Regions from separate parts of the Homo sapiens genome. Here region 2 is linked to region 1. Evidence: fine-mapped QTL for protein levels in blood plasma. A gene starts in region 1. The other region holds a variant in brackets. All regions are shown on one strand. Distances are from middle to middle. Region 1 holds the start of WFIKKN2 (WAP, follistatin/kazal, immunoglobulin, kunitz and netrin domain containing 2). Region 2 has its middle 32 kb from the start of MIR8059.

What was found. A credible set is the group of variants that fine-mapping cannot tell apart. PIP is the posterior inclusion probability: the model's chance that the variant is causal. The UK Biobank Pharma Proteomics Project read protein levels with antibody pairs (Olink). The fine-mapping took linkage between variants from a reference panel, not from the people measured, so its PIPs are less certain.
Region 2: its variant is the best candidate, but not a certain one, in a credible set for the plasma level of the WFIKKN2 protein (UK Biobank, PIP 0.84).

Annotation. Positions count from the first base shown.
Region 1 is chr17:50,832,312-50,837,672 of GRCh38, reverse strand. It overlaps WFIKKN2 (WAP, follistatin/kazal, immunoglobulin, kunitz and netrin domain containing 2), which reads right to left and starts at 2,087. Exons shown (of 2, transcript NM_175575.6): 1 at 1,526-2,087. The coding sequence starts at 1,735. RefSeq lists enhancers at 4,375-4,895, 4,896-5,361.
Region 2 is chr17:50,797,662-50,802,995 of GRCh38, reverse strand. No RefSeq gene overlaps it. Among named protein-coding and RNA genes, the nearest start is that of MIR8059, 32 kb to the right of the region's middle. RefSeq lists enhancers at 2,760-3,309, 3,310-3,860, 3,861-4,411. The variant T/C (reference allele first, on the strand shown) is at 3,214.

The DNA.
Region 1 (5,361 bases):
TCAGCCCTCTGCTCTCCTGTGGGTAACCAGGCATCTATGGGGGAACCAGTGTCTCTCGTGTTCCCTGGGGATGCCCCAGCCTGGATCTGGAGCCTTGGGAGACTCCGTGCTGCCCTCAGAGCTGGCCAGACTGGGCAGGAAATAGCTCTGCCTGGAGCAGGTGTAGGTCCCACAGCCTGTTGCCCCAGAGGGGGTGGGCAGGAATGGCCCTCGGGAATGACTCGGGAGCTAGAAGAGAACTGGCCCTGCCCTGCAGCAGTGCCCTCTGATACAGAGCAGAAGGCAGGACCAAGGACGCTGGGAGGCTGAAACGTGGTCTCCTTCCTCCCAGGGACACCAGAGATCCATTCAGAGCTGCTCCTGCTTGGCCTGCCGTCAGCCTGGTCTTCTCTCAGGCTCAGGGTCCAAACTCCTGAGGAGGTGGCCTGGAGTCCAATGCAATCAAAGCTTTCTTGTTAGACATGAGTTCCAAGCTCATCGTTCCCTCACTGGCCATGACAACTGTGCCCTCCGTGCCTGGCTCTGTGTCCACTCTCTCACCTGTGAATGGGCTGCTGATGCCCACCATGCTGACATGTCATGCCAACATACACGACGTGCCCGGCACGGTGCTGGCCACAGTAGCCCTCAGCACGCATGAAGGAGGAATCCTCGGGCTCCAGTCCCTGATGAACTGGGACATCGCTCCCACCTCTCCTTCCAGGCTTCGGTGTTAATAGACAGGATGGTGCCCTGTTTCTCTCCAGGTGAACGGGGCCTGTGTTCCTTCACCTTCCTAGGACCTGCAGGGCACTCCTGCATGGTCCCCACCCTGTGGCTCCCACCCCCATCACTCACAGGCTCATATGGTCCATCTCTGGCTTCTGGACCCCACTCACCTGGTCCGCCTCACACTCCAGCTTCTGGATCCCACTCACCTGGTCCATCTCACACTGTGGCTTCTGGACCCCACTCACCTGGTCCACCTCATACTCCCACTTCTAGATCCCACTCACCTGGTCCGCCTCACACTCCAGCTTCTGGATCCCACTCACCTGGTCCATCTCACACTGTGGCTTCTGGACCCCACTCACCTGGTCCACCTCATACTCCCACTTCTAGATCCCACTCACCTGGTCCGCCTCACACTCCAGCTTCTGGATCCCACTCACCTGGTCCATCTCACACTGTGGCTTCTGGACCCCACTCACCTGGTCCGCCTCACACACCGGCTTCTGGACCCCACTCACCTGGTCAACCTCACACTCCCACTTCTAGATACCACTCACCTGGTCCATCTCACATTGCGGCTTCTGGACCCCATTCACCTGGTCTGCCTCACACTGTGGCTTCTGGATCCCACTCACCTGGTCCATCTCACACTCCTGCTTCCGGACACCACTCACCTGGTCCGCCTCACACTGTGGCTTCTGGACCCCACTCACGTTGTCCTCCTCACACTCCCACACAGTCCCTCCCCGACGGCTCCCACCCCCGTCACTCACAGGCTCACGTGGTCCATCTCTGGTCTCTGGACCCCACTCACCTGGTCCGTCTCACACTCCCGCCTGCAGGTGCTCTGTGCGTCCACCCAGAGGTTGGGATTCATGTCGTTGGGGCAGATGCCGGCGTGGGAATAGCGGATGGGCGGCAGCGCCAGGCTTCGCGGGGGCACCCCGAGCAGTAGCAGCAGCAGCAGCAGCGCTGCCACCTGCTCCCAGCGAGACCAGAACCGGCGACACCTTGGGGCCCACATGGTGCAGGCTGGGGCGGCTAGAGACCTCCCCTGAAACGATGCCAGGGTCTGGGGCCCACCAGGGCCTTCTTCTCAGGGGCTGCAGACACCTGCCCTCCCCACCCCAGCAGGTTTCCTGCTCAGGCTGCTGCTCAGGCTGCTCTGCCGCTGCTGCCTCCACCAAGTCAGCACAGCCTGCCGGGCTGTGCGGCTTCAGATAAAAGAAAGGTCTTTAGAAGGAAGCTCCCTCTCCTGAGTGTGCAGGGAGAGGAGCCACAGCAGGGGCCCGCGCCCGGATTTATATCCTGGGCGCGCCACCCGAGTGGGAGCCAGCTAACCTGATGCCTGTCACAGGCAGGCTGCTGGCGCCTCTGTCCCGTGGCTGATCACAGACTTATTGCAGAAGGGGGGAAAAAAAAAAAAAGAAGCTGGAAGCAGTTTAGGCAGCGTATCTGGCACGGTGGGACACCTGCTTGTTTTTGACTCCAGGAGGCCTTTAACCCCTTCAAGGGCCAGAAATGGCATGTGCTTTGCGGGGAGCTGGCTCCAGGACACGCAAGCTCACTCTGAAGGAGGGCTTGTTTCCCTTTCCCCCACCTCCTTGGGGCCGGGCCCCCTCCTCCCCTTTGGCCACCTCTAAAGAACACACAATCGCTTGTTACGAGGAGGGACCTGCAGCCACCGGGTTAGCATCGCCCGGCTTGATAGTACATTTGAGAGCAAATGACGTGGAAAAACAACAAGTTCACGGCCATTCCAGGGCGGGCCTGCGCCGCGCTGTGCCCTGTAAGCCGACTCCCACCCCGGCCCCGGCCCTTTGTGGGGGGTGTGCGCACGGACAGCTCTGTATCTCTGTGTCCAGGGCAGTTTGCGTCTTAAGTTCCAACTTCAGTTAATTTTCCCCAAATCATTCCAGAGACACATACCAGATATGCTCTGGCCCCGCCGGCGGCTGGGACGGATCACATTCCTCCCTCTTCCATCGACACACCGAGAAAACCTCCGCGGTCACAGTGTCTCAGGATTGTGCCGGAGTCCAGCTGCCCTCGCTGACGACCACAGTGGCTGCTCTTCAGTGAGCTCCTTCTGACTGCCAGCCTTGTCTGGCCTCCCCCACTTCCCAAAGGAGAAGGTCTGTGGTCGAAGAGGGCGAGCGACTTGTCCAAGGTCGCACAGAGTGAGCAGTCCTGGTGGTACCAGCTGCCAGATGCACTGGGCTCTTCACACGTGTGGCTTCTCTGAACGCATCATCTCATTTAATCCTCACAACAAACTGCACCTCCATTTCAGATCGGAGGAAAGGACGCACAGAGAGGCTAAGCAACCTGCCCATGTCGCACAGCTACCCCACCACGGTACAGGAAACAGGGACACCAGCTTGCTGGGTGTGGGCAGGGGCCTTTTAAAATCACCCCTCCCCCATCCATCTGCCAGAACTGCTGTCAAGGCACAGCCCAAACTCTGGTTTTCACAGACTGGACAAGAAATTTTTGAAACATCAGGGGCTATATTTGTGGAGGGGCCGGGAAGAGAGCCAGAAGCTGCCAGGGGCTGGGGGCGATTCCTCCCCCATTTGGCAGCAAATGGCTTCTATCTAAAATGCCACAGAGCAGCCTGCAGTCTGAGTGTTTTCGAGTTGGTCACTCGATCCTGGGGGTAGGGGGCGGAGGCACATAGAGCCCCGAAAGAGAGGTACCTTTCCAAGGCCAAACCACAAGGGCCTTGAGGAGCTGCTGTGTCCCGGGGACAGTAGGTGGAGTGGCCCCCACACGCATCAGATACGGAAGGGATCCTGAAGGTAATCTCGCTTTACAGCTAAGGAAACTGAGGCCTGAGCCCAGGCCGCTCCTTCCCCACGTCCACTTTCCCCTTCAAGAACACAGCTCGCCATCTCACAGGACTGTAAAACGGCCACGGGACCCTCGCTTCCACACCCAGACCCTTCCCCTTCCCAGCCGGGCGGGTGCTGCCTTCTCCCCGCCTGAGCTGGTCCCTTCCCGTTGTGCGGCCATTCTGCAGGATCTGTCTTTTCTGCTTATGTCAAATCGCTAATGAAGGGTGTCAGATCCTAATCCTCTAAATTATTGGAATAAACTTCCCTTCGAGGCCAGTCCCCGTAATGAAGCCAGACAGCGGGCGACGCCGGCTGCTTTGAATTCCCCGTAATTTCATCAGCCCGTGTTCCAGCTGCTCCGCGCGGGGGCCTTCACACAGCCCTTGGACAAACGCGGTTTGCGCAGCCTCCTTTGATAGCACAAAGGGACATGGACAGTGACACATTTATAAGCAGGACTTAGAAAAACTGTCACAGCCCCATTAGGCCAGGACAAGTATCCAAGGAGAGGAGGCCGATTTCTGGGCAGTCCCAAGAGACCATTAGAGGGTGTGGGAGAGATGAGAGGGGGTCGGAGGAGGGGAGGCACCGAGCAGAGGTTGGGGGGTGCTGAGGAGGGCAGGAGAGGGGCACACGGCAGGGCAGGGGAAGCTTGGCCATCCTACCCCCACTCCTGGGGCTGATGGAGAAAGCCCCCACACCCAACCTGGTCCTGTCTCAAGCCACGGACTTCTCCTTCCCGGGCCCCATTCCTGGACGTTCTACTCTGAGAACTCTCAAAGCAGCATCGGGAAAGAGAGGAGCCCAAAGCACTCTGACTCTCCCTCCAGCCCTTCCAAGTCTCCCACCAAAACACAGCTCAGAATAATAAATAACATCTGATCGGCCTGGAGCCCACACAGTGTTTTCACCTGCACGTTGCTGCTGACCCCACGGCAGCCCCAGGAGGGAGCTCCCTAGCGCGGGAGAGGAAACCGAGTCACAGAGAGGTTAGGCTGGGCCCTCCTCCTGCCCACCCCGGGCCTATGGCCTCCACACACCCCGTGCAAGCTTCCAGCCCCTCCAGAAAGCGACCCCCAGCCCATGCTGGCTGCCCCGCCCACTGGCTTGTTTATAAGCTGTTTGGGAGCGCTTTGAAGTCTTCTCCTCCCTCCCAGAGGCCCTTGGAACTGGCTCTGGATCTGCCTCCTTCTCTCTCTCCTCTTGGTGTGTCTGTGTGTCTGACTCTGTGTCCCTCACACTCTTCCCTGTGGGTGGTGTGGGCCCTACCCTCACCAAACCCACGGTACTGAAGGTGGGCCCAGCGGGAGCGGCTCAGTGGCACATGCCCACTGTCCACCGGGCCTCCTCCACTCAGGCCACTGGGAGCAGAGGCTGGGCTGGGTCTCCTGAGCAGAGGCCTGGCCTCGGGCGTGATCTGCCTTTTCCCCTTTCCCCAAGGACACCAGGCACAGCTCTCCTGCTACTCAGAATGAGAGGTCAGAGAGGGCTGGGCTTGGCCCCATCTTGGAAGGGCCCCTCCATCCCCCACCATTGTCACAGGGTGGAGAACCATGGATTCTTCACACTGCCAGGGTGGGTTCAAATCTGCTCTAGGAGCCGTGGGAGGAGGTCACCAGGTCACTCTCAGTGACCCTTGACCTCAGGTTCACCCTGACATTAACAACTCCTGAGCCGCTAGGGTCTTGACGGGACAGCACAGCTGATACCATTTCCCAAGTCAGCCAGCCCCCAGCAGCCGCGATGGGGAGGTACAGAGGTGCCACAAGAGTATCTTGGGTGCCACGTGGCTTATGCACACCCCACACCCACA
Region 2 (5,334 bases), 35 kb after region 1:
ACCTTTTTTCTTCCCCTCCTGCCTCACAGCCAGCCTCCTAGAGAAGGAGAAAGGCCTGGTAGCAGCATGAGCTGCCAGGAGCTGAGAAACCCATTTCTGTCTGTCCTCCTTGTTCCTGAGCCACTTCACCTAGGGGAGTGCTATTTGTGCTCTGGTGGGGACATAAAATTGCAACAGGAAGCCAGCACAGGTGACCTCTGCCCCTGTCTATTTGGAGAAAGTTGGTCCTAGCTGAGGTCAACACCCCAGGCACAATTACACCCACAGTAAAGCGGGGGGATGAACCACTTTACAGGGTCTGGCTCCCCAAGATGGTACATCAGCACATCAGAACATAATCATCCAAAGAAAATGACTTGGCTTGTGCCTCGTGAGAGTTCAAATTCCACATCAGCTCCAGGCTAGGGGGAGTCAAAACTGCTGAACAGATACAGAATAGCCGGAGATGAAAGCTAAGAGATCTCAGGACCTAACGGCTTTGTGGCTGTCTGTATTAGACAGGATCAGTTAATGCTGCAAGAAACAAGCCTGAGAATGATAATGGCACAAGCGTAGTGAGGTGGAATTCTCATTCACATAAACAGTCACAGGTGGGCCCAGTCCCTGGAGCTGGGGGAGGAGCTCTCTGCCACAGAGGTCTTCAATTACCCGGGATCTGTCACCTTCAACACATGGCTCCCAAGATCACTTGGGATGTTGACATCCAGCAATGAAAGGGGAAAGGGCATGAAGAACTGGTGAAGTGGGGAAGGCTTTTATAGTTACAGGCAGGCCTAGAAAAGCAGTCACATTTCATCAGACTGTTCCCTCCACTGAGATGGAACTCAATCTCACGGCCACATCTAACTGCAAGAGAAGCTGGGCATACAGTCTTGCTGTGTGCCCAGATGAAAAGAGAGCACCCAGCAATGCTTGTCACACCATCCAGCTGTGGCTGCTATAGATGTGAGGGTCAACTGTGTGCAGCATCTCTGCTCCCAAATCACGGAGCCATTGTGGCAGCCTCAGAGGATGACTGCTAGGGAACACTGGGCTGTCCTAGACCATCAACTCCACTAGCTGTACCCTCCTTCTCTCCAGAGATGGCCACCACTCAAAGCTTCACTCCTCAGAGGGCTACTACAGTCTACTGTGAATTACCCTCCAGGATTCTGGAGGCTCCTTCCATCATGGAGGACCCTGTCTAGCACTTGTGACCCTTGACCCTGACCTCAGACCGAGAGCCCATCTAGGGTCCCAGGGCTAAGGATTTCATTCCAGGTGAACCCCCTGGTACCTGCATCCCACTGCCTCCACGGTTCTACCACCACCCTGAGAGCAGAGAACCCCTCAAGAAGACAGCATCGGCCATTTGTTACCTTGACTCATGCCAACCCTAGCCACTGCCGCTCTCTCCATGAATGATCCAGCCACCTGAAGTCCAGTTCCTGGCCCAGGTTGGATAAGCATGGCCACCTGTCCACCACTTACCACCCAACAGCCAAGGACCAAAGAGAACTTCTCAGCCATATCTCCCAGGAGTTAGGACAACAGCAGGATGAAGCTGAAACAGCCTCGGGTTCAGGTCGTCCTGGCTTCACATCTCTTCTCTGCTACTGACTAGCAGAGCTTCTTGCTTAAGTCACTTACCTCTCTCTGAACCTCAGCACCCAGGCTATAATGCCCCTGTGCAGGACTCGATGAAATAGTGTGCACAAAGCCCTGGCTCAGTGCCTGGCGTGCAGTAGGCCATCAGCCGAGTGCTGTTATAATGGGGGCTCTTTGCTGCTACAATGCAGCACCTTAGACCCTGGGGGTAATGATTCACTCAGGCTTCCATCCAGGGTGAATGGTCCCAAAGCAGCTGCAAGCTGAAGCTCCTGCTCAGCCAGCAATGCCCAAGGGAACTTGATCAGGAGCAGCTCTTCCCCCTCCTCCTCCTCCTCCTCTTCCTCCTTCTCCTCTTCCTCCTCTTCCTCCTCCTCCTCTAAGAAGGCTGCTCCCCAGCCTTCATAACTGCTGTGCACAAGGAACAAGTTTCCAGCTGCCTGTCAGCCTGTGGCAAGCCCGCTGGCTTCGACCTCCTTCACGCTGCACTCACGGAGGCCACCTCCCAATCACCAAAGCCAATGATACATTCAGTTCTTGCATCACTTGACTTCTTGGCTGCATCTGATGCTACTGACAATCCCATCTTCCCTAACCATCCTCCGCCTGCCTTCTGAAGGCCACTTTCTATCTCTTCCAGCCACTTATACACTCTCTCTGACCAGCTCCTCTTCCCGGCCTTCCCTCCCCATGCTGACATTCCGAAAGGTGCGTCCTGGGCCACTTGTCTGCTCTGCGGGGTCATTCTCCCAGGTGGTCACACCACTGCCATGTGTTGGACCAATGACTTCCAAACAATTCCTGGCACCCCAGCAGCTTGCCCACTGCAGCCAGGATGATCCAATTCACAAATTGGATCAAGTCTTTACACGGCTTAAAACCCATCAGTGCCGTCCCGTGGCTCAGAAGATTAAACCCAAGCTCCCTGGTACAGACGCCGTGTCGTCTGACTCCTGCCTGTGTCCTTGGCCTCAGCGCTTGCCCTTCCTGGCATCGGGGCTCATCCCATTCCTGAGGGATGACTGGCACCCTCGGAGAGCCCCAGGGTCTCCAGGTCTCGGTTCCTTTGACTTGCATGCACTCTACCTGGAACATGTCCCCACTGGAGAATGCTCCCTGCCTCTCCAAACCAGATCCAGGGCCCTTCCCCAAGCCCCCTCCTCTGAGTGTGGCTGACCTCAGCATCTCTCCTGTTGTTTTGCTTTGGTCTCCCGGTCCGCATGCCCCTGCTATGTAATAAGTACTGGGTGAATGTTGGTGGAGCAAAGGAGGGAATTAATGACCAAGCCAGCCTGACTCTGAGGTGGGCTTGAGCTGACTCAGTGCTGTCTTAGGTCCTCCTGCTGGAAACCTGGCCCAGAGCTGAGCGGGCTTTGCACCCCTCCCTGACCCCAGCCTCACAGCCGCCTCCACCAGGGCCCAGTGGCTGGCCAGGGACTGTTGGTCAGGAAGCCCAGGCTGGAAACCTGGCTCCCTCCCTCCCTGCTAACACCTTGGAGCAGATCTGTGGGGAGAATTCTCCACTTGAAAGAAAAGCACCAGGTCTCCCCTCCTTCCCTGCCTTCCTGAGAGCCCCTGTCACCGCTGCATTCTTGCTGAGGCTGGAGGAGATTAACCGGAGGCTGG[T/C]GGCAGCAGCCGGTGCCCTAAGCTGCGTGCTGCGTGTTCCCAGCATGGCACCACTCACAAGCCGCCCTGGAAGGAAGGTTCTGGTGGTAGGAGCTGGATTTGGTCACCCAGGCATGGGCTGTGAAAGCCCCCACAGCTCCTGGCTCTGCCAGGTCGGCGGTTGCTGCAGGCCGGTGTGAGGGTGGGGATGCCACAGTCCAAGGGTGTTCAGGGTCAGAGCTTCTTAGGGAAAGGTAAATTACCCCACAGGGTGTTATGGGTAGGACCATGTTCCTATCACAAGATATGCTCAAGACCTAACCCCTAGTATCTCAGAATGTGACGTATTTGAAAATAGGATTGTTGCAGATGAAATTAGCAAAGGTGAGGTCATACTGGAGTGTAGGGTGGGTTCTTAATCCAATAGGACTAGTGTCCTTATGAAAGAAGAGAAGAGACAGAGAGACAGACATATGCTCCTGCTCTGTGTGAAAGAAAGAAGACGCGGAGACTTCGGGGAGGCAGCCGCAAGTCTGGGCCTGCCAGGAGGACTGGCAACCACCGGAAGCCAGAAAAGAGGCAAGAAGTCTTCCCCCTCCAGGCTTGGAGGGAGCAGGCCCGTCCACACCTGAATTCCAGACTCCTGGCCTCCAGAACCGTGAAGCAATACCCTTCTGTTGTTTGCAGCTGCCTAGTGTGTGGTACTTAGTTAAGGCAGCTCTAGAAGCAAATACACAGGGCCTCAGACGGGGAGGCCTCAGATTAGAGGGAAATGCCTCTGACTCCCTATGGTGATTGAGACACTGTCATATTCGTTCCTGTCCCCAGCCTTGCTTGTGAGGCCAAGAAAAGCAAAGGCTGAGTAATGACAATGCTAGGCAGAGGGAAGTCTAGCTAACGTCAGGCCTCCTGCTCTCTCCTGATCCAGGGGTAGAAGGAAACAGACCGTGGGCTGCTGGATGAGGCGTCTCCCCACTCCTGGGTCCACCACTCCGCTCCGGCCACTCAGGGCTGCCTGACAGCTCGGGCTTCCGCCTGAGCTCACCCCTGTCTCTGCCACGTCCTGAGCAAGGCCCTGCCTCTCTCCCAGCCTTGGGTTCTCCCTAGCCCTGAGGCTCCCATGGCCATGCCACCTGCTGAGCCCAGACATCCCCTCCTCCCTGAACCCTCCCCTGACCCCTTCCCTAGACGCCTTCTGTGTTGGGGATGCCTTGGGACGGCTGAAGAGGCCCCGTGCTGAACCGCTAAGGGAACAGGACAGTCAGACACACCTGCCTTCAAATTCAGGCGTCACACTTGTAGCTGTGTGACTCCAAGCAAGTTCTACATGGCATCTATTTCCTCCTTTGTAAGGTAGTGATCCCAGCAGGGTTGTGGGAGGCAGCTAGTCAAGGTTGTAAGAGACTCTGCAAGGCCGAGGCTCTTTCCCTGGGTCCCACGGGCCAGCCTCAGGAGGTCCATGAGAGCCCCGAGGCTGGAGTGAAATAGCGCGTACGGCTGCCTACATTGCTCTCAAGCCTTAGCTCTTGCCTTGTTCTCAGAGGGGTTCATGACTTCAAGAAGTTAAGACCCCCACGTAAATCTCCCAGCCCAGAGCCCCTGAACACCGCTCCACTTTGGACTGAGCATCTCTCCTGGGTCCTGCCACCTTGCATCTTGCCCTGAGCTGCATCTGCCGTGTGGTGTGGTGGCCTGTCCCCACAAGGAAAGGGGCCCTCACAAGGCCAGCCTCAGACCCTGTGCCTGACCCAGGGCTCCTTTGCAAAACAAGTTCTTTTTTTTTTTTTTAATACTTTAAGTTCTAGGGTACATGTGCACAACGTGCAGGTTTGTTACATATGTATACATGTGCCATGCTGGTGTGCTGCACCCATTAACTCGTCATTTACATTAGGTATATCTCCTAATGCTATCCCTCCCCCCTCCCCCCACCCCACAACAGGCTCCGGTGTGTGATGTTCCCCTTCCTGTGTCCAAGTGTTCTCATTGTTCAATTCCCACCTATGAGTGAGAACATGCGGTGTTTGTTTTTTTGTCCTTGAGATAGCAAAACAAGTTCTTAATACTGCTCCTTCCCGAGGGGCCCTGAGGCCCAGCTTGCCAAGCGCCCACAACGCACCTCCAGCCAAGGTTTCAACAGAT